Homo sapiens: one gene and its partners. The protein of the gene in region 3 interacts with the protein of the main gene of each other region in a biochemical or structural test. Each region holds a gene or a part of one and is shown on either strand. Other genes may lie near its edges.

Evidence for each region.
Region 1: the proteins of ID3 (region 3) and PDLIM5 form a complex in vitro, tested with the Homo sapiens proteins (one study listed by IntAct).
Region 2: the proteins of ID3 (region 3) and SREBF1 form a complex in vitro, tested with the Homo sapiens proteins (one study listed by BioGRID).

What each region holds. Positions count from the first base shown.
Region 1 is NC_000004.12:94,664,725-94,669,484, reverse strand, and holds the end of PDLIM5 (PDZ and LIM domain protein 5), read right to left. Parts: 3' UTR 3,461-4,760; coding exon of another isoform or gene 3,459-3,460; 3' UTR 1,262-3,458; downstream 1-1,261. UniProt on the Homo sapiens protein: May play an important role in the heart development by scaffolding PKC to the Z-disk region. May play a role in the regulation of cardiomyocyte expansion. Isoforms lacking the LIM domains may negatively modulate the scaffolding activity of isoform 1.
Region 2 is NC_000017.11:17,819,846-17,827,823, reverse strand, and holds part of SREBF1 (sterol regulatory element-binding protein 1), read left to right. Parts: intron 1-4,193; exon of another isoform or gene 4,194-4,216; coding exon of another isoform or gene 4,217-4,306; intron 4,307-7,302; coding exon 7,303-7,734; intron 7,735-7,978.
Region 3 is NC_000001.11:23,556,786-23,564,243, reverse strand, and holds ID3 (DNA-binding protein inhibitor ID-3), read left to right. Parts: upstream 1-4,742; 5' UTR 4,743-4,817; coding exon 4,818-5,117; intron 5,118-5,224; coding exon 5,225-5,284; 3' UTR 5,285-5,309; intron 5,310-5,828; 3' UTR 5,829-6,318; downstream 6,319-7,458. UniProt on the Homo sapiens protein: Transcriptional regulator (lacking a basic DNA binding domain) which negatively regulates the basic helix-loop-helix (bHLH) transcription factors by forming heterodimers and inhibiting their DNA binding and transcriptional activity.

The DNA of each region.
Region 1 (4,760 bases), on a different chromosome or scaffold from region 3:
TGAGATTTCTGTTAGGTAGCCATGTGTCCTAGCACCTTTCCTCTGTTAAATTTTAAATACTGCAAAAGAACCATTTTCCCTGGGAGGCTCCCACACTTGGGATGAAACTTTCTCTGCGGAATTTTGGCACCCTATTAATTAGTGGTTATGAGTGGGAGCTGCTCTCTCTCAGCAACTCCTATTCTGCCATCAGTCAAGTGTGATTCTGCAATAAATTTCCACGAAGCAAACTATTTCTGGTAATTCTCCCTAATTAACACCAGGCCTGCTAATAATACATCAGTACCTATGTGTTTCTGATATAACCAAGATCTTGTCTGAGCATACCCAAAAAGGGAAACCGCCAATCCAAATTAAGCTTTTGCTGGCAAAAGGATTTTATATGTAGTTCTGTAAGAAAACCTTTGATAATCTTATATTGGGGACATTTCGACTAGAAAACACTGAACGACAGGGAGGCTTGCTCTGGTTTGAGCACTGAATGGGGATTTATTGTGAACACACGGTTGAGACTTAAGCCTATAAATCTTGTACTGGATTACTGTTTCTTAACGAAGGAATGACAGATCTCTTATTTTGTCGGTGCATTTTAATGTGCAATGACGTGATTGATAGAAACCAAACAGCAGCTATTAAAATGTCAGATGCAGACTTGATGCTCTTAAAAGTTTGGCTTCTGGAGTTTAATATACTGTGAGCAAATAGACTTGAATTTCTCTTTTATTCCCAACATAGAGCGTGCAACAGAAACATCTGTCTTAACTTTATACAGTTGGAAAAATATCTTAAACTAATAAACAAATGAGGCAGAGGTGAGCCTACCTAGTTGTGGAATAGTCAGTTAATGAGATTGAGATGAGTTAAGCATCCCAATATCTAATGCAAAATGTGGAAATATGGATGATGATTTATGTTCTTTGATTATGTTCTAATATGATGTTTGATATGACAGGTTGTTCCAATAAATCATTTCAGCAATAAATATTTTCAAAAGACAATAGACCTTATTTATCTATTAATTCATAAACATTGGGTACATTCTACATGCACGGCATAAGAACAGAGAGAAATACAATAAATGTGACAGTATTTTCAAATATTTTGTTTCTGAGACATTTTGATAAGCAAATATCATACTAGAAGGGTTCTTCTGAGAATTATTACATCCTATCCTAACCTGTGAATATGGAACTTGATTATTTTCCCATGATGACTTGATGGAAACCACTCGCCAACCAACAACAACAAAAAGGAGAGCTCATTTACAACAATGCAGTCATTTATTTATTGAGTATGTGCACATTATGGTATTATTACTATACTGATTATATTTATCATGTGACTTCTAATTAGAAAATGTATCCAAAAGCAAAACAGCAGATATACAAAATTAAAGAGACAGAAGATAGACATTAACAGATAAGGCAACTTATACATTGAGAATCCAAATCCAATACATTTAAACATTTGGGAAATGAGGGGGACAAATGGAAGCCAGATCAAATTTGTGTAAAACTATTCAGTATGTTTCCCTTGCTTCATGTCTGAGAAGGCTCTCCCTTCAATGGGGATGACAAACTCCAAATGCCACACAAATGTTAACAGAATACTAGATTCACACTGGAACGGGGGTAAAGAAGAAATTATTTTCTATAAAAGGGCTCCTAATGTAGTACTGCTTGAAAATGGTACATTTTTGTTGTAGATTATTTTAAACATAATGCTATAGTAATATTTTGAAGATTTGAGCTGTTATTTCCATTTGTTTTTACACTGTGACTAAATGATTAGGTTTTAGTTTTAGACTCTAAACGGAACCTGAATTAATAGGAAATAAACACGGTACTATAGTTGTCCTATGGTGCCCCTATGGGTGATGGGTTCCAAGAACCCCCTAGGATACTAAAGTCCATGATGTTCAAGTCCCTTATAGAAAATGGTGTAGTATTTGCATATAACCTATGCACATCCTACCATACACTTTAAATCATCTCTAGATTACCTATAATAGCTAATACAATGTAAATGCTTTGTAAATAGTTGTTATACTATATTGTTTAATGACAAAAAAAAGTTTGTACATGTTCAGCAAAGGCGCAACCATCCATTTTTTTCCCCAAATATTTTTGACCCACAGTGGGCTGAATCACAGATGCGAAGCCTATGGACATGGAGGGCCAACTGGACAAGCATAAGCAGGGGATACTTTTTAGGTTGCTACTTCAGCAGGCAACATTCAGACCATGGAAGTCTAGAGAAAGATTATAAATCTGAACTTACCGCTAAAAATTTTAAAATGGGAAATAAATCCAAGGAGTTTTTAGTCATGCATTATGATTTTAATCTATGTTATGCCAAGTACAGCATTCCAAAATATACATCTAGAGACTAAAAGTAAATGCTCTATAGTGAAGAAGTAATAATTAAAAAATGCTACTAATATAGAAAATTTATAATCAGAAAAATAAATATTCAGGGAGCTCACCAGAAGAATAAAGTGCTCTGCCAGTTATTAAAGGATTACTGCTGGTGAATTAAATATGGCATTCCCCAAGGGAAACAGAGAGATTCTTCTGGATTATGTTCAATATTTATTTCACAGGATTAACTGTTTTAGGAACAGATATAAAGCTTCGCCACGGAAGAGATGGACAAAGCACAAAGACAACATGATACCTTAGGAAGCAACACTACCCTTTCAGGCATAAAATTTGGAGAAATGCAACATTATGCTTCATGAATAATATGTAGAAAGAAGGTCTGATGAAAATGACATCCTTAATGTAAGATAACTTTATAAGAAATCTGGGTCAAATAAAATTCTTTGAAGAAAACATCCAAATGTCATTGACTTATCAAATACTATCTTGGCATATAACCTATGAAGGCAAAACTAAACAAACAAACAAAAAGCTCACACCAAACAAAACCATCAACTTATTTTGTATTCTATAACATACAAGACTGTAAAGATGTGACAGTGTACATTATATGACAATGCACATTAGCCAGCAAGTCTTTTATAGGTGGTTTCAGCAGCAACGATAAATAATGCAGAATTCAGCTCCAGCACTTTATTTCAAAAGAAATTTCCTGCCTCCCTCCAAGATGCAGGGTGAGGAGGTAGCTTGGGGTTGCTATTGGAGAAGTATTCAGTTTGCTACTTTGTGTCACCCCTTGCCATTCTTTTATCCCCAGTTAATTATTATCTGCATATAATATAAATCTGCTAGACCATAAATTAACAGCTTTCAGGACAGATGCCTTGAAAGTTCTTAGGGAGGTTAAACAAATATTGTAGCCTAAAACCTCCTCTATAACAAACATGCACACAATGGAAGTGATGTCGTAAGTGAGTGATGGGGCAGGAAGGACCTAGGGCTCTGTCTCGACTATAAAATCACCTTGCCCCAAACAAATTTAAATTATAACTTAGGAGGTTCATGGACTTTCATCCATTCTGGAAACAAAGAGAAAAACCAAATCAAATACCAGAATCTGTTTTCTCACTGGGCAAATAGCAACAGGATCCACAGTTTTACCACAATTGTTTCCCTGTCTCCATGTGGTATCTACATAATTCTTTTCCCAAAGGAGGAAATCAAATAACAGGCCAATCTGAGTAATTAAACTCCCCTCCCAACACTACCCAACCTCTGTGAATAAAAGCTTTCCAAACTTTGTGATCACATTTGAAATTGGTTCACTTATTATTGAGAGAAAACCACAAAAAGTCTCAATTTCATCACATCCTCAAACCAATCTTTTAATTTTTAAATGCAGAAGAAGAAACAAAACGAAACAAAAAGATCATTCTGCAAAGAGACCTCTCAACTCTTCATCAGCCAGTGGCATAACTCAGAAACTGATTTAACTAATTTATTATTTGAGAAAAGGGGATTGAAAAACAATTGGGGGGTATAATCTTCTGATTCACAATTCCCAGCCACATTCTTTTCTATTTATTCTCTCTCTCTCTTTTTTTTTTTTTTTTTTTTTTTTTAAGAGCCGGAGTCTTGCTCTGTCACCAGGCTGGAGTGCAGTGGTGTGATCTCAGCTCACTGCAACTTCCGTCTCCTGGGTTCAAGAATTTTCCTGCCTCAGCCTCCCAAGTACATGGGACTACAGGCACGCCCCACCATGCCCAGCTCATTTTTGTATTTTTAGTAGAGACAGGGTTTCACCATGTTGGCCAGGATGATCTTGATCTCTTGACCTCATGATCCGCCCGTCTTGGCCTCCCAAAGTGCTGGGATCACAGGCGTGAGCCACCACACCTGGCCCTCTATTTATTCTCTTTAAAGAGAGAGAAAACTATGAGAGGCCAAAATTATTTAATTAAATCTTTACCTTAGCACAAGGGAAAAAAATGGAATTTGCCTAATATAGGTGATGAAGCATACACAATGAATAGAAACAATCACATTTTAGTAAAAGGCAAAAATTTGAGACTTATAAGCTATATGGTAGCTTATTTTTGGGTGGGGAAGAAATGAGAAAAGAATATAACATCTCTTACTGGCATGACACATTTTGATAAAAAATCTTATTGTCCTTTCCTACTAGAATGATCCACTGTAAGGCAAAAATAATATACAAGCAAAGTTTTTTTTTGGAGACAGAGTCTCACTCTGTCACCCAGGCTGGAGTGCAGTGGTACGATCTTGGCTCACTGCAACCTCTCCCTCCCGGGTTCAAGTGATTCTCGTGCCTCAGCCTCTTGAGTAGCTGGGATTACAGGCGCGTGCCACTGCGTCCGG
Region 2 (7,978 bases), on a different chromosome or scaffold from region 3:
GGCCGGAGTTGGGGCTCACTGCTGTCCCCCACAGGCTGGGGCTGAAGGGCAGGCTCTGGGGCCGCAGAATGGGGTTTGTGTACCAGATTCTTCATATGGCAGCTGTGGGACTTTGGGCACGAGGCCTCCGTCTGAGCCTTAGTTTCCTCAAGAGGACCTGCGCCCAGGTGCACCTGGGGCTCCAGCCATGGGTGCGTCCCATTCCGGGAAGAGCTGGCACACACTTGTGCCCCCGGGGCAGCCATGAGTGCACAAAGGGCAGCCTGTGCCACTGCTGGATACACGACCAGCTGAGAACACGAGGACCGCCGACTCCAGTTAGGAGGATCAAGGAAGTGCCTGGTGGGAGCAGAACAGCAGGTGGGGTGCAGCCCAGCTCCCTGGAGGGATGGTGGGCACCCATCCTCACCCTGCTGCCTCCATTAGCAGGCCGAGAGGGTGTGCTCTGGAATCCCATGAGCACCTGTGCCACATCCTCCCCTGTGGCTGACCCTTCTTCACAGTTGGTGCAGCTTTGTGGTCTGTAGTGCAGGGATCAATTGGCAAATCCCTTTCCCACCCATTCCCTGGAGAATTGGGGTCCTTGGCTCAGATGACAGACCAACCTGAGTTGGAATCCCAGCTCCTTGGTGGCCGTCCTGGCCTCCACCCCCTCACTGCCTCCGCTCCTCCTATCCTGCCCACGCCCACTGCAGGGCCTTTGCACACACTGTTTCTTCTGCCCTCCCTTCCGGCCCACTCCCTCATATCATTCAGTCCTCCTTTCAGATGTCACCTCCTAAGATGGGCTGCCCTGACCACCTCATCTATAATGGCCCCAGTGCCTGGCACAGGATTGGCACACAGTAGATATTGTCAGAGATGGATCTGGGTTCTGTGGACAAGGCTGTGGGGGCAGGTGAAGAGCTCCCTCTTCCAGGAGGTTGTTTGGGGTTCAAGGCCTTGTTTGGGTTGTAGGCTTCTGTGCTGGTCAGCGTTGGGCCCTACAAGCGCATGCCATGAGGCCTGCCCAGGATTTCCCTCATGGCCTCACAGAATACATCGGCCAGAGTCATTAAAGGGCGCCTGCATCTGCCTTCAGAGAGAGGTTTGAAGGTAGAACTGGGGAGGGATGCCAGGTGGGGGTTCAGGTTTCCTGTTGGGTCCTGATAGAATCAGGGCAGGAGAGGAAGAAGAAGAGGGAAGAGGAGGAACCCAGGCTTGGGGAGGGGTGGCAGGGCTTCACAAGCCTGGGGAAGGTGAACTAGGGAGCAGTTGGGGCCACCATGGCCCAGAGTCTATGCCTCCTCTTCCTTCCTGTGTTCAGAGTGTGTGTGGGAACCACAAGGGCCTTCTCAGTGTTCATAGGGAAGCCCGGTTCACCCATGGGTGGGCCGCAATTTGGGTGCCACAGTGAGCCCCTAGAGACCAGCTCTCCCAGCTTCCAGGACAGGGACTAGGGGAGGCAAGAGAGGCTCTTCCTTAAATTGTGCACCCAAGGTGCCTCAGCTGCCTTACTCTAGACTGGCCCCGTTAACTCCCCTTAAAAAAAAAAAAAAAAAGACTCAGTCGAATGGTAATGGAGCTCCAACGTGAATACTGCAAGTATCAGGCAACTCACTACCTGACTTTCCAGTTCTAAACCATTCTAATTGCTGTAGAGAGAACTAACCTTTGTTGAGACTGTTGAGTGATGGATGTTTTACACACTTGCTTTCCCAGAATTCCCACCTCTGGAGATCGTAGGTGTGGGAGCTCAGAGGGTGGGGAGTGGACTGTCCCCATCACACAGCAAGGGAGGGGCTAAAGGAAGAGCAGGGCCTGGCATGCAGCCCCAGATAGCCCACTTGGGTGTGTCTCTGAGGGAGGCTGCAGGGCTGGCTCTAGAGTTTCCTTTTTCAGTCTTAACCTGGTGACCAGCTTCCACAGAAATTGGCACGGTGACTCATGCCTGTAATCGCAACACATTGGGAGGCCGAGGTGGGAGGATCACCTGAGGTCAGGAGTTCGAGACCAGCCTGGCCAACGTGGTGAAACCCTGTCTCTACTAAAAATACAAAAATTACATTTCATTACAGGTGTGGTGGCGCACACCTGTAATCCCAGCTACTCAGGAGGCTGAGGCAGGAGAGTCACTTGAACCCGGGAGGTAGAGGTTGCAGTGAGCTGAGATCGTGTCACTGCACTCCAGCCTGGGTGACAGAGCCAGACTCTGTCTCAAAAAAAAAAAAAAAAAAAAAAGAAATTGGCCAGTAGATCAGCCCCAGGGGAGAGTGAGCCAGGGTTTGGCCAGGCCTTGAGTTTCAGAGGCTGGCCATGGCCAGTGGCACCCAGGCCCTTCCCCCTTCCTCGGGGCATCTTAGCTTAGTCTGTGCCCTCTGCCCAAGGGCCAGCCCTCTGTTCCCAGGTCACACCCCCTCCTCTTGGAAGGCCCCCCCCGCCCCACCCCCATCAGAGTCTTTAATGACTCTGCTGCCCCTGGGGCTCAGAGAGCAACCGCCCTCTCCCATCGCGCTTCCTCAGTGGGATGGGAGGGGGTTAGAGCAGGAAGATGAGACAAATAAAGACACAATAAGAGGCAGGAATATGTGGTAAAGCCAAGATGGGTAAGGGGAGGGGACAGGCTTGACTGTTCACAGTGGCCCTGGCCCTGCTGTCTCAGGCTAGTATCTGCTTGTTGGTCTCACCACATTCTAGGCTCAGAAACTGGGGAGCAAAGTAATGAAAGAACCAGGCTGGGAGGCCATGGGGAACTCATGCCTGGAGTTCAGCTCTCAGTGTGCTTTTGGGTCAAGGACGCTTCCCTGTCTTAAGTCACTCATGTCAGAGCCTTTGCCAAGAGCAATGCTGTGTTTTGTTTTGGGGGTGAGGGAACACCCGCGGGCTGAGGGGAGGGTTGGGCCATGCTAGAGAGGCCGTCTGTTGTCCTTGAACCTCCCAAAGCTGGGAAATAAGGGCCTGGGCTGGACGGCGGTGGCGAGGACAGGTTGCGAGAGAGACATGGCTGGGTTTTCTTGCTTAGGGTCCTGAATAGAGAGCAAGGTTGAGGCCGCAGGGACCCCAGCCCCCAATGGACTGCTGAGTCGCTGGGTCTGCCCAGGGTTCAGGCACCCTCTCAGGTTGCAGCCAACTGGGGTGTGGACCAGGCAGAGGCGCTGGCCTGCAGTTTGGGGCAGAGGCAGGCTTTGCTGGTGGTCTACTTGGCTGCAAAATCAACTGGCCAGGCTCTGATCACTTTGTGTGTGTGTGTGTGTGTAACTTTTACCTTTGACAAAAGAGGGAAGACAGGCCCAGGCACCTCCTCAAAAGAACCCTAGAGCCTGTCACCCCTTCCTTACCCATCTTCTGTCCTAGGGACTGCAGCCCTTCCTGGCTTCCCAGGGCCCTACAATGAATAGTGGGTCGGGACTCACTTGGTGACTGCTGGGTTGTGAGGCCTTGAGGGGGAGGGGCAGACTTCACCCATCTGGCAGAGGGACATCGGTGCTGGCAGTCAGGAAACCCTTATTTCCAGGCCTCAGTTTCCCGGAAGTGACCTGTTTTCAGGAGTGGCCTCATCCCAGACCATCAGCCCCGCTGTGGTGAGGGGTGGCCCCTTCCTGGGGCTGCCCTAGAAGGGGGAGGTCCCTGCACCCACCGCAGCTGCCACTCGGCAGCCCTTGGCCTTAATTAAACGCTTCTTGCGTACTAAGTGCTGCACCCATATTATCTCCCTTCTACCATTCGACGCCAGGGAGATAATGACTGTCCTGTTTTCTGGAGGAGTAAACGGAGGGTTGGAGCGGTTAAGGCTCGCTCAGGGTGCCAGCGAACCAGTGATTTCGAACACAGAGTTCTGGTGTGTTGGGCCAGGACTTCTCTGCTTTGACCCTTTAACGAAGGGGGCGGGAGCTGAGGGCCAGTGACCGCCAGTAACCCCGGCAGACGCTGGCACCGAGCGGGTTAAAGGCGGACGTCCGCTAGTAACCCCAACCCCATTCAGCGCCGCGGGGTGAAACTCGAGCCCCCGCCGCCGTGGGGAGGTGGGGCGGGGGCCGGGGCCGGGCCCTAGCGAGGCGGCAGCGCGGCCGCTGATTGGCCGCGCGCGCTCACCCCATGCCCGGCCCGCAGCCCCGAAGGGCGGGGCGGGGCGGGACCTGCAGGCGGGGCGGGGCTGGGGCGGGGCTGGGGGCGGGGCGGGGCGGGGCGGGCGCGCCGCAGCGCTCAACGGCTTCAAAAATCCGCCGCGCCTTGACAGGTGAAGTCGGCGCGGGGAGGGGTAGGGCCAACGGCCTGGACGCCCCAAGGGCGGGCGCAGATCGCGGAGCCATGGATTGCACTTTCGAAGGTATTTTTGGAGGCCTCCCCACCAGCCCTTTATACAATGCCTCCGTCTCCTGCAGGTTCTCCTGGGGTGGGCGGGCATGCGGGCTACGCAACTTGAGCAGGAAAGAGCCCCTTCCCGAGGGAGAAGGTGTGACAGTTACCAGCTCGCTGGGGAAGTGGAGGGCTACCTCCAACCAAATTAGTGTCCCCTGCAACTCAAGGGGGAAGGGTTTGCTTAGAGACCCAAAAGCAGCATCCCGACCTAAGAGGGTTTGGAGGGAGAGGGTGGTCTTCTCTACATTCTCTGCACCCGCTTTGGGACAGGACCAGGAGGAAGCAGGGAGGAGGGCCCGTTGTCCCTCTGCCACAGCGTCTGCCCTATTCAGCACCCCTGCCTATTGTGGGCATCTTAGACTTTTCAGGAAGACAGTGGGAGCCCTAGATTGTCAAAATTGTCAGTTTTTCTTTCAGGCCTCAGTTTCCCCCATCTATCGAAGAGGCTCACACGGACTGGGGTAAAGGGATGGGAAACCCTGCAGTTGAAAGTCCATTATGACTTGATGACTTGTGACCTGGGGGGTCCACAAACCAGGAGAGTTTCTACTTGAGAAGCCAGGAAGACTGGGGCTGCCACCCCATCCTGTTCTGCCAACTGCTCTAGGAAATTCCCCTCCTGCAGTAGCTTCCCTGCCTGGGTACCTGTCAGTAGGCAATGTTGGGTCTCCACTCGGTGCCAGCTGCCTGCCAAGCAAAGCCTCGGGCAGCCGTACCAAAAGGGGTTTAGTCTTTTCTGTTGTACAGATGAGGAAACTGGGGCCAGTGAGAGGAGGCTGTTGGTCCAGGCTCCACTTCAAGCTGGTGGTGGGCAGGGCTGGGAGCTCAGGCTGGGGATCCTGAGAGCACTGGAGGCCCCCATGGGTCCTGTAGAGCATTCTGACCCAGTGGGTGCCACCACGAGTGGGTTAGAGGGCCCTGGGCTGAGCCAGATAGGCTGCTAGTCACCAGCTGGGGGAGAGGGCCCTTGGCCAGGTGGGGCTGAGGTGGGAGTGTGTCCCAGTCTGTATGAGGAGGAAGGAGTCAGGACAGACAGCACTTGCTTTTACAGAGATGAAATCAAAGCCCTGAGTGGCCAGGCCTGGGTCTTGAGGCTACTTGGCTGCAGGCAAAGCCTGGACTTGAGCCCAGAACTCTACACAGAGACACACTGGTTGGCCATGTGGCCAGCAGCTGGCTTGGCCCTAAGCCTTGGTCTGTTCCACTGAGTAATGGGTTGGTGATGGCAGCCTGGCTCTTGGCTTCTTAGTGGGGCAAGAAAAGGCAGAGAGACAATAGATTTGGGATTTTGTAGACCTGGGTTTGAACCCCACTGCATGCTCTTGGGCTGCTTGTGGTCCTCCCTGAGCCTCAGTGTCTTTTCTTGTCTCCAAGATGAGGTGAGCTAATCTTTTGAGGTAGTCTAGGGTAGTGGCCAGTGGTTGGGGCATTGGAGTCAAAATAGGGTCTGGACTCAGTTGAGTCTCTGACTCTATAAGAACTTAGGCCAGTAAGTCACCTCTCTACAGCTCAGTTTCTTCACGTGTAGAATGGGGCCAATGATCACATCACCCTCTCAGCTGTGGGTGAGGATTAGGGGTCTAGCCTGGCCCCATCAATGTGGGTAGCCCCACAGCGGGCCTGGCTTTTGGACCAGACCCACCCTTCTGACATGGGCCCCCACCCTTAGAGTCCTTCTAGTGTGGATGAGGACCCTGCTCTGATCTGGGGTCCTCTTGGGGGACTTCCCTGTCTGCCATTCTCTTTGGGGATCCTGCGCTGCCCTAGGAAGAGTGGGCCCAGGCTGCACAGTTGGTCCTTGGTCACAGAGGATCCCACCACTTCTTCAGGGCCTCAAGGCAATCCTGCCTCTCTCTGCACCCCTCTTCCCCCTGTAAACTGAGGGGAGGGGAAAATCACCCACTCCTCAGCAGTTTCTAAGTTGCTTTGTCAAATTCAGTGCCCAGAGGATCCTGCTGGGGGTGCGTTTTAGGATGAGACCAGGAGTGGCCAATGGTGGGGTGTGGGGCCCATCGCTCCTATATGAAGACCCCCTCTGCCCTAGACTGCTCCTCCCTCCCCATCCCCATCTCCATCCCAAAGACTGGAGCTGCTGGATCTGTGGATGGAGGCGTGCCCCCCGTTTCACACATTGAGAAACAGGCCCCAAGTGGAGCCAGGGAAGGCTGCACCTGGGCCTCTGGATTCCTTTTGTTCTGTGTGGGGTTGGGGGTGATGGACTGTGGAGAGGGCAGGAGAGCTGTCTGGAAGGGTTGGTCACCTCATGGGCAAATGCTTGGAAGCTGGTCTGAGTCCACGGTGCAGTGTGTATGTGTGTGTGTGTGTGTGTGTGTATGTGTGTGGACTCAGAGGTGGATGTCTTGTAGAATGCATGCCCCATGAAGACAGGAGTAAAAGTTTACCACCATCCACATCAAGCTACAGGACACTCCCAGCTCCCCAGAAAGTTGCTTAGTTCTAGGCAGGGATTTCCCTTATTCACAGCCGGGAGCAGTGCCTGGCATAGTGTGGGCACTCAGCACTCAGCACATGCTCACTGGATGAGTGAATGAATGTGAGCCTGCTGTTTGCTGTGGACTAAGGATGTTTCTAGATGTTTGGGCAAATACCGGATGGTGGGAAGAGCTCAGGCTCTGAAGTCTGCAGTCTTGGGCCCGACCCTGGGCTCAGCCCCAGCCTAGCTGTGGGGCAAGATTGTGAGCCTTGTGGTGCCCACCTTGTCCAGGTATTGTGATGCACTCGCAGCAGCAGGCATTGCTTTAGACAGCACAGGTGCTCGCAAAATGGCTGTATGTCCGGGAACACCAGCTCCTGTGGGTGGCTTTCTGTCCTGGTGGCATTGCCCACACATACAGCTGTGTGCCAACAAGGGTTGTGCAAATAAGGTTGTGTTTGGATGTGTGTGATGCCCTGTTTGGGGGTCAGTCTCTGCCTCACTCACGCACCCTCTTCTCCTTTTCACAGACATGCTTCAGCTTATCAACAACCAAGACAGTGACTTCCCTGGCCTATTTGACCCACCCTATGCTGGGAGTGGGGCAGGGGGCACAGACCCTGCCAGCCCCGATACCAGCTCCCCAGGCAGCTTGTCTCCACCTCCTGCCACATTGAGCTCCTCTCTTGAAGCCTTCCTGAGCGGGCCGCAGGCAGCGCCCTCACCCCTGTCCCCTCCCCAGCCTGCACCCACTCCATTGAAGATGTACCCGTCCATGCCCGCTTTCTCCCCTGGGCCTGGTATCAAGGAAGAGTCAGTGCCACTGAGCATCCTGCAGACCCCCACCCCACAGCCCCTGCCAGGGGCCCTCCTGCCACAGAGCTTCCCAGCCCCAGCCCCACCGCAGTTCAGCTCCACCCCTGTGTTAGGCTACCCCAGCCCTCCGGGAGGCTTCTCTACAGGTAAGGGGGATGTGTGGCGGGAGGGGACACCCGGGGTGGGGCTTCCAGGAGCACAGGAAGAAGCTTCTGCTGTGATGTGAGTAGAGGTCTGTGCAGGCTTTAGAAACTGGGGCTCCACTCGGCTGCTTGAGATGCCCTGTTACTAGCAGTCCTGGTGTGCTTGTTGCCGGGGTAGGCGCAACCTCGCACTGGAGGCCTGGCTTGAAGCCAGTGCATTTGCATCAGAGCCCAGGCAGGGACTGTC
Region 3 (7,458 bases):
GGTGCAAATCTTGGACCTGCCACTTATCTAGCTATGTGACCTTGGGCAAGCACATTCACCTTTCTGAGCCACTGTCTCTCTGTCTATAAAAGGGATCAGCGGGAAAATGTGTAAGAAGGCAAACAGGACTTGGCAAACAGAACTCAATGAATGATGATGGTGGCGGTGGCGCTGAGTGCTTCTGAGTTAGAGAGTAGCCCATCCTGGAGGCCTTTGAAATCCCCACCCCTGTAAGGACTCATGCCTTAGATCCTGATGCTCCTCACATTCCTGACAACAGCCTCAGCAGGGACCACTCAACTCACTTGGTACCACCTATCCCACTCAACAGGGGCTACATCACATTACAGCACATAAAAATAACTGTTTCCCACACCATTTTCCATCCCTTGTCCCCTTTGACTCTCCCAGCTGTGAGGTAGATGGATGGTATTTTCCTCCCAATTTAATAGAAGAGACAGCTGAGACAGAGTGAAGGTAGGAGAAGTCAGGGCAAGGATTGAGCCTGGTCTTGATTCTGAATCCCCTGTGCTTTCCTTGTATCACCTGAATCTCAAGCAATACTTTGGGCTCCAGACTCTCTGAGGGGAGGAGAAGGAGAAGGGATGTTCTATGTGTGTGACTGCAAAGTCCTCACCACACCTTCTAGGCACTTATGAGCAAGGAGATACATATTATGAAATGTGGCATTTGGGAATGTTCTAAGACCACCCTAATGCTATTAAGAGTGCCGGGCGCGGTGGCTCACACCTGTAATCCCAGCACTTTGGGAGACCAAGTCGGGCGGATCATGAGGTCAGGAGTTCGAGACCAGCCTGACCAATATGGTGAAACCCTGTCTCTACTAAAAATACAAAAATTAGCCGGGTGTGGTGGCGTGCGCCTGTAGTCCCAGCTACTCAGGAGACTGAGACAGAAGAATCGTTTGAACCCAGGAGGTGGAGGTTGCGGTGAGCCGAGATCACAACACTGCACTCCACCCTGGGCGACGGAGTGAGACTCCATCCCAAAAAAAAAAAAGAGAGAGAGGGCAGAGTGGACAGAGAGTCAAATGAGAGGAGGTCTGGGTTCTGGCCATAGGCCAGCTACTGACATCCCAAGTAAACGTGAGCAAGTTTCTGAGGTCCCCATGATCCCCATGTCTGGGACATAAATGGGAAAAAGATGATAGATAGATAATAAATAGAGGCTCAGCTTAGACAAAAAGGCATCTGCAATCCTTGTCATCATTACTTTGACTTTGAAATCAACAATTTAGAGAGCCCACTACCACGAAATTAAAAAATTCTAAAATTTTTTAAAAAACAAAACAGTATAACTTAAAGAGTTCTGCCAACTTCTCAAAAAAAAAAAAATCAGAGAGCACAACATTGAATTTTTTTTTCTTTTTTTTATTTTGGCAGAGGAAGATTGAGTTCCTGGAAATGCTTACAAAATGATTCCTGACACTGGGAGGAGATAGTTAGAAAAAAGAAGAAGAAAAATTATACACATATATAGATAAAGGAAGAAGGTGGAAAGAAAGGGAATAGACAAAAGAAAATAAAGAACTAAAAGAGAAAGAAAAAAAAAGACTTTAAAGGGCCCCAATTGAAGCAACATTATCAAGTTCTCAGCATCTGCAATTCACAAGCCGCTCGCGGTTGGGGCGATGCAGACCCCGCCCCTTTCTCGGGTGTCCGGCGCTCATTGGTGGGGGAGGCAGTCGCCGGCCGGTGACTGCCCGAGGAAAGGTTGCCTGGGACACGCATCCCTGTGTGAACGCATGACGTCCCACCCTGGCGCCAGGCTGTCTGGGGCTGAGTCTTAGATCAACACAGCTGTGGGACCGGGACCCACAGCTGGGCAAAGGAGCGGATTCCTCAACAAAAAATAGGATTGTGAGAAAAGTTCTGAAACAAAAACAGCGCAGACAAAAGCCTTAATGACATCCTTTCATAAAAATAAAAAATGCAAGAGGGGGGAAAAAGCTGGTAAAAGGAGCAGAACTGGGAACAGAAAGTTCAGAGGCATTTGGAATAAGAGGCTGAGGCCCCACCACTGCTAAACAAGTTGCAGAAGGCCTGAGCTAGCCTGTCCAGTCTGCTGTGGGGAAAAAGAAGTCTCTTGGGTTTAAACACTATTCAGTGTTCCTAACCATAACCTGCTTCTTTCAGAATTAGAATCTTAGGCTAGAGAGGACCATTAAAGGGCACTTGCTTCCTCCCAACCTACCCACTATCTTTTTTTTTTTTTTTTTTTTAAAGAGAAAATGAAGCCCAGGAAGGGAGGAAATTCGTCCAAGGGCACACTGCAAATTATTGGCATGCACAGAACAGAATTTTGCTTGCTAATTCCACAGCATCCTTCTGCCTTATGTCACACAGCCCATGGGCATTTCAGCCTGGAAGCATCCTGGGAAATAATAAATGCGAAGGTGCTTTGCAAACCTAAATCACTATACAAGCCTGAGGCATCAGCTGCAGTAGTAGAGGAAGGAAAAGAAGGGAGGAGAATCTGGGTAGACTGAGCACCTTCCACACAACTGGCCCATGCTGGGTCCCCCAGGCAGTAAGAAGACTAAGATCAGATGGAGTGAACACATCAAGTGCTTTGCAGAGAAGAGGCATTCAATAATTATCGAATGAATGAATGAGTAGACCCAATTAGTTCCATTTTATAGATGGGAAAATAGAAGCACCCAGGATAACTCAGCCAAAGTCTACACAATTAGTTTAAACAAAAAAAGAAGAAGAAGAAGAAGAATGGGCATTTGCACAGAAATCTGCCTGGCCCGTGATTTTTCTAGAACCCTCTGGACTTGACCGTTTTGCCACAGAAGTCTGCAAGATAGGAAAAGAAGGATCTTCTCTTCGGTTATTCAGGAGTTCCTACAGCCATTATTTTGCCTTTCCTGACCAAATAGCTGGCACTTGACGGCTGTAGCATGTAAAGACTGACTTGCCCACTCACAGGTTTTCTTCCTCTTTTCTTACTGAAGAGCCTGTCCTTGAAAAAAACATTCCAGGAAGAAATCTTTCTTGGGCCACAGAGCCCTGTGGTTTGATGGAAAAGAACGAGGCTTCAAGACTGGCTCTGCTATTACTTGTAGTGTGACATTGGGCATGTCTTAAATGCCTTCCTTGGGCCCCTCAGCATCTTTCACCTACATATCCAAATTTCACACAACCTTGGACTTCTACAATTGGAAAGGATTTTAAATAATCACTTAGTACCATCGTCTATTTTACTCACAAGGCAATTAAAGCCAGAGTACCTGGGCTTGTTCAAGATTACATGACAAATTATTGTCAGGGCTAGCATGATGAACCCAGGGCTCTCAATTCCCAGTCAGTGTCCTTTTCAACCGTTTTGCGACTCTCTTTGGCTCTGAGCCCCCCTTGTCCTGTTAATCAGTGCCACACATTATCGAACTCTTGTTTCCTGTGTTAATCTTGTCTCCCCAAATTGTGAGATTCTTGAAAGCAGGAGCCACTGTTTTATGCGGAGGGACTCCATAAATATTCACCAATGATTCATTAGGAAAGCAACTATTGGGGGAATCCCACTTGGTCATTTCCAAAATGGAAAGCAGCATCTTGGAAGTGCAGGTCCCCAAATGTCTAGGGAGGTGACAAGAAGGCAAGCAAAGAATCAAAGAATACTGAGCACAGTGTCCTGTTGCAATACAGGACTTAGTTTGCCGGCCCTCTGGTTCCTTTCCTGGTCTTTCAGATGGAGCTGGAGCTACTTCAGCAGGGCTAAGAATAATCAAGTCCAGGTGGCCTGCCCTTCCATAGCAGAAAGGGACAGACAATAGAGCAATGAAATTACCACTGTTTTCTACACAGAGGTGTGTGGAAAGTGAAGAGAGGGGAAGTTAAGAAATTTGCTGACCCAATTGGGTGGGGGGGGGCTCTTAAAAAGGTTTATGTAGAAATTGTCCCATCTGTGCCTCCATATTTAAAACCTTGTCCAAAATTCTAATTGAACTCACAAAGCACAACTGTGCATATATTTAGTTCGTTATGGAGTTTATGGGGCAGAGGGTCCAGGCTCCTTTTTTCCCCATGCAAAAAGCATGGGCTCAAGCTTTCTTCTTTTCCCCTGTTGCTCAAATAAATAGTGTTCTTTGCTCAAACCCCCTTTCCCTCCTCCTTCTGCAATCTCAGCGCCTAGCGCAAATCTGTTTTCTTCATTGTAACCTCAGCTTCACCGCAATTAATTTTTTTTCCCTCTGGTCACAAGATAATTCCTGACGCCAGTGAGTCTGGAGGTCAGACGAACAGCAAATTGGGGAACAAGGCGGCACTAATTCCTTACAAGTTTCCCTTGAAAAATCTTTCGCTTAAAAAAAACGGGGGGTGGGGGGAGCTTCTTTGCTGTTCAGGGATTTATGACCTCGGAGGAGCTGTGGCTCGAACCAGTGTTGGGCTAAAGGCGGACTGGCAGGGGGCAGGGAAGCTCAAAGATCTGGGGTGCTGCCAGGAAAAAGCAAATTCTGGAAGTTAATGGTTTTGAGTGATTTTTAAATCCTTGCTGGCGGAGAGGCCCGCCTCTCCCCGGTATCAGCGCTTCCTCATTCTTTGAATCCGCGGCTCCGCGGTCTTCGGCGTCAGACCAGCCGGAGGAAGCCTGTTTGCAATTTAAGCGGGCTGTGAACGCCCAGGGCCGGCGGGGGCAGGGCCGAGGCGGGCCATTTTGAATAAAGAGGCGTGCCTTCCAGGCAGGCTCTATAAGTGACCGCCGCGGCGAGCGTGCGCGCGTTGCAGGTCACTGTAGCGGGACTTCTTTTGGTTTTCTTTCTCTTTGGGGCACCTCTGGACTCACTCCCCAGCATGAAGGCGCTGAGCCCGGTGCGCGGCTGCTACGAGGCGGTGTGCTGCCTGTCGGAACGCAGTCTGGCCATCGCCCGGGGCCGAGGGAAGGGCCCGGCAGCTGAGGAGCCGCTGAGCTTGCTGGACGACATGAACCACTGCTACTCCCGCCTGCGGGAACTGGTACCCGGAGTCCCGAGAGGCACTCAGCTTAGCCAGGTGGAAATCCTACAGCGCGTCATCGACTACATTCTCGACCTGCAGGTAGTCCTGGCCGAGCCAGCCCCTGGACCCCCTGATGGCCCCCACCTTCCCATCCAGGTAAGCCTCGAAGTCGGGACAGGGCTGAACACCCAGGCAAGGATGCTGCGGGACCCTCGGAGCTCCCGATTGCCTCGCGTAACTCTTCCCTCTTTTCCTCTAATCAGACAGCCGAGCTCACTCCGGAACTTGTCATCTCCAACGACAAAAGGAGCTTTTGCCACTGACTCGGCCGTGTCCTGACACCTCCAGGTGAGTATCTCCTCTCTTGGAGAGGGAGGTTTAAACGGCAAGTCCTGGAGTTGGCAGACGTTTTGAAAAATTGCCACTCACTCGGTTTAGGGAAACTGAGGCCAGAGAGGGACAAGTGACTTGCCCATGGTTGCATCAAATGAATGGCAGAGTCAGTTTCCATGTGATGTGCATTTAAGCCTTAAATGCGCCTGGGCCCTGCCCTCCCGCAGTGGCCGAGGGTCTGGCAAAGTAGACATGGGTCCGACTAAATACAAGTCTTTCTGTTCCATGTTGTATAGGGAGCTGTCTTCGGCAGCCCCCTCCCAGCTAGTGTCAATTCCAAGTAGGAGGGGTAGCGCAAGCTCCGCCTGTGGTCTTTGGCGCCAACTGGGTGGGGGCAGCGTGGGGCGCGGAGTTATCAGCTGGAGGTACAGACCAAGTTTCCTCCCTGGCGCCGGCCAGTCTGCGGACGGCCCCCGCCTCGGCACGCTCGGCGGAAACTGACTGCTCCTTGGTCTTCTTTCCTCCCCCGCCCAGAACGCAGGTGCTGGCGCCCGTTCTGCCTGGGACCCCGGGAACCTCTCCTGCCGGAAGCCGGACGGCAGGGATGGGCCCCAACTTCGCCCTGCCCACTTGACTTCACCAAATCCCTTCCTGGAGACTAAACCTGGTGCTCAGGAGCGAAGGACTGTGAACTTGTGGCCTGAAGAGCCAGAGCTAGCTCTGGCCACCAGCTGGGCGACGTCACCCTGCTCCCACCCCACCCCCAAGTTCTAAGGTCTCTTCAGAGCGTGGAGGTGTGGAAGGAGTGGCTGCTCTCCAAACTATGCCAAGGCGGCGGCAGAGCTGGTCTTCTGGTCTCCTTGGAGAAAGGTTCTGTTGCCCTGATTTATGAACTCTATAATAGAGTATATAGGTTTTGTACCTTTTTTACAGGAAGGTGACTTTCTGTAACAATGCGATGTATATTAAACTTTTTATAAAAGTTAACATTTTGCATAATAAACGATTTTTAAACACTTGTGTATATGATGACACCCGTCTCCATTAAGTACTAATGATGCTTTCTCGCACATGGCCGAATTTTGGGAGCTTTGGGAAAGTGAACTTGCTTATTCTACGAGAGGGAAATGAAAAACTGCCTGGTTGAGAGGGGATGGGGTGGAGAGAGAAGGGTTCATGATGGGAGTCTCATGTCCATTGAGGGATGGGTGCAGAGAAAAGTTCTGGGCTCTGCTCATTATTTCAGAGATGAAACCAGAGACTGGTGCAAGCTTGCCCAGCAAGTTGGTGGCTCAGGCAACTTGAAAGTTGGTGGCTCAGGCAACTTGAAAACTGAGTTTTCATGTCCCTTGAGATCTAGCAGTAGCTTTCCTCTTTATTGTTACTATTGACTATGCCTTTCTAGCAGGGGATGTGGTAAGAGGAGAGCCTCAAGTTTGCTTCACCTGGTGCCCAGGCATGGGTGGTGGTTGATAGACCAATTCCAAAAATGAATAAACTGATAACTGGGCCTGGTTTCATTTCCTTCTTGCTCTCTGGGCTGGCTTCCTTGCGGGCTTCCAAAGTTGGAAAAAAGAGGGAGGTCTCCTGAAATGGATAAAGATTTGGATGCTGGTTGGGAAGTACTGATAGTAATCCCTTCTTTAATGCTAGGTGGTTGTGGAGTCCGACCCTGAACAAGGAATGTGAGGCAGAGACTCCACAGTCCTCATTTCTGCTGGTATTTCTACATCACCTCCATTGGGAACCTATTCTGTAAGCATCCCTATCCCTATTTCAGAAATGGGGAAAGGGAACCTCTGTGGGTAATGCTTCTGAACCAGGTTTTCACAGCCTTTGAGAGGTAGAGATGGGATTTGAACCGTGACTTGATTGTGGTGAACAGGAGCAGGGCTGGGGACTGGCCATTCCTTGAGGCCAGGCCTGGCAGTGGGGCAGAGAGCAAGATCCCAACCCATGCCTTCCCCCACACCCCTGGTGGCTCCCCAGGTGGGCTTCACCAGGTGCCTGGCCTTACTAGAGATTCCTGTTTATGGTATGATCTCATCTGTGTGTTGGTCCCTGGCATGAATTACTTCAATATTTCATAACAAACAGGTCACGTCATCACCTTTAGTGCCTTAACCCTGGTGAGCTTGCTGGGGTGAACAGGGGCATGGGGGAG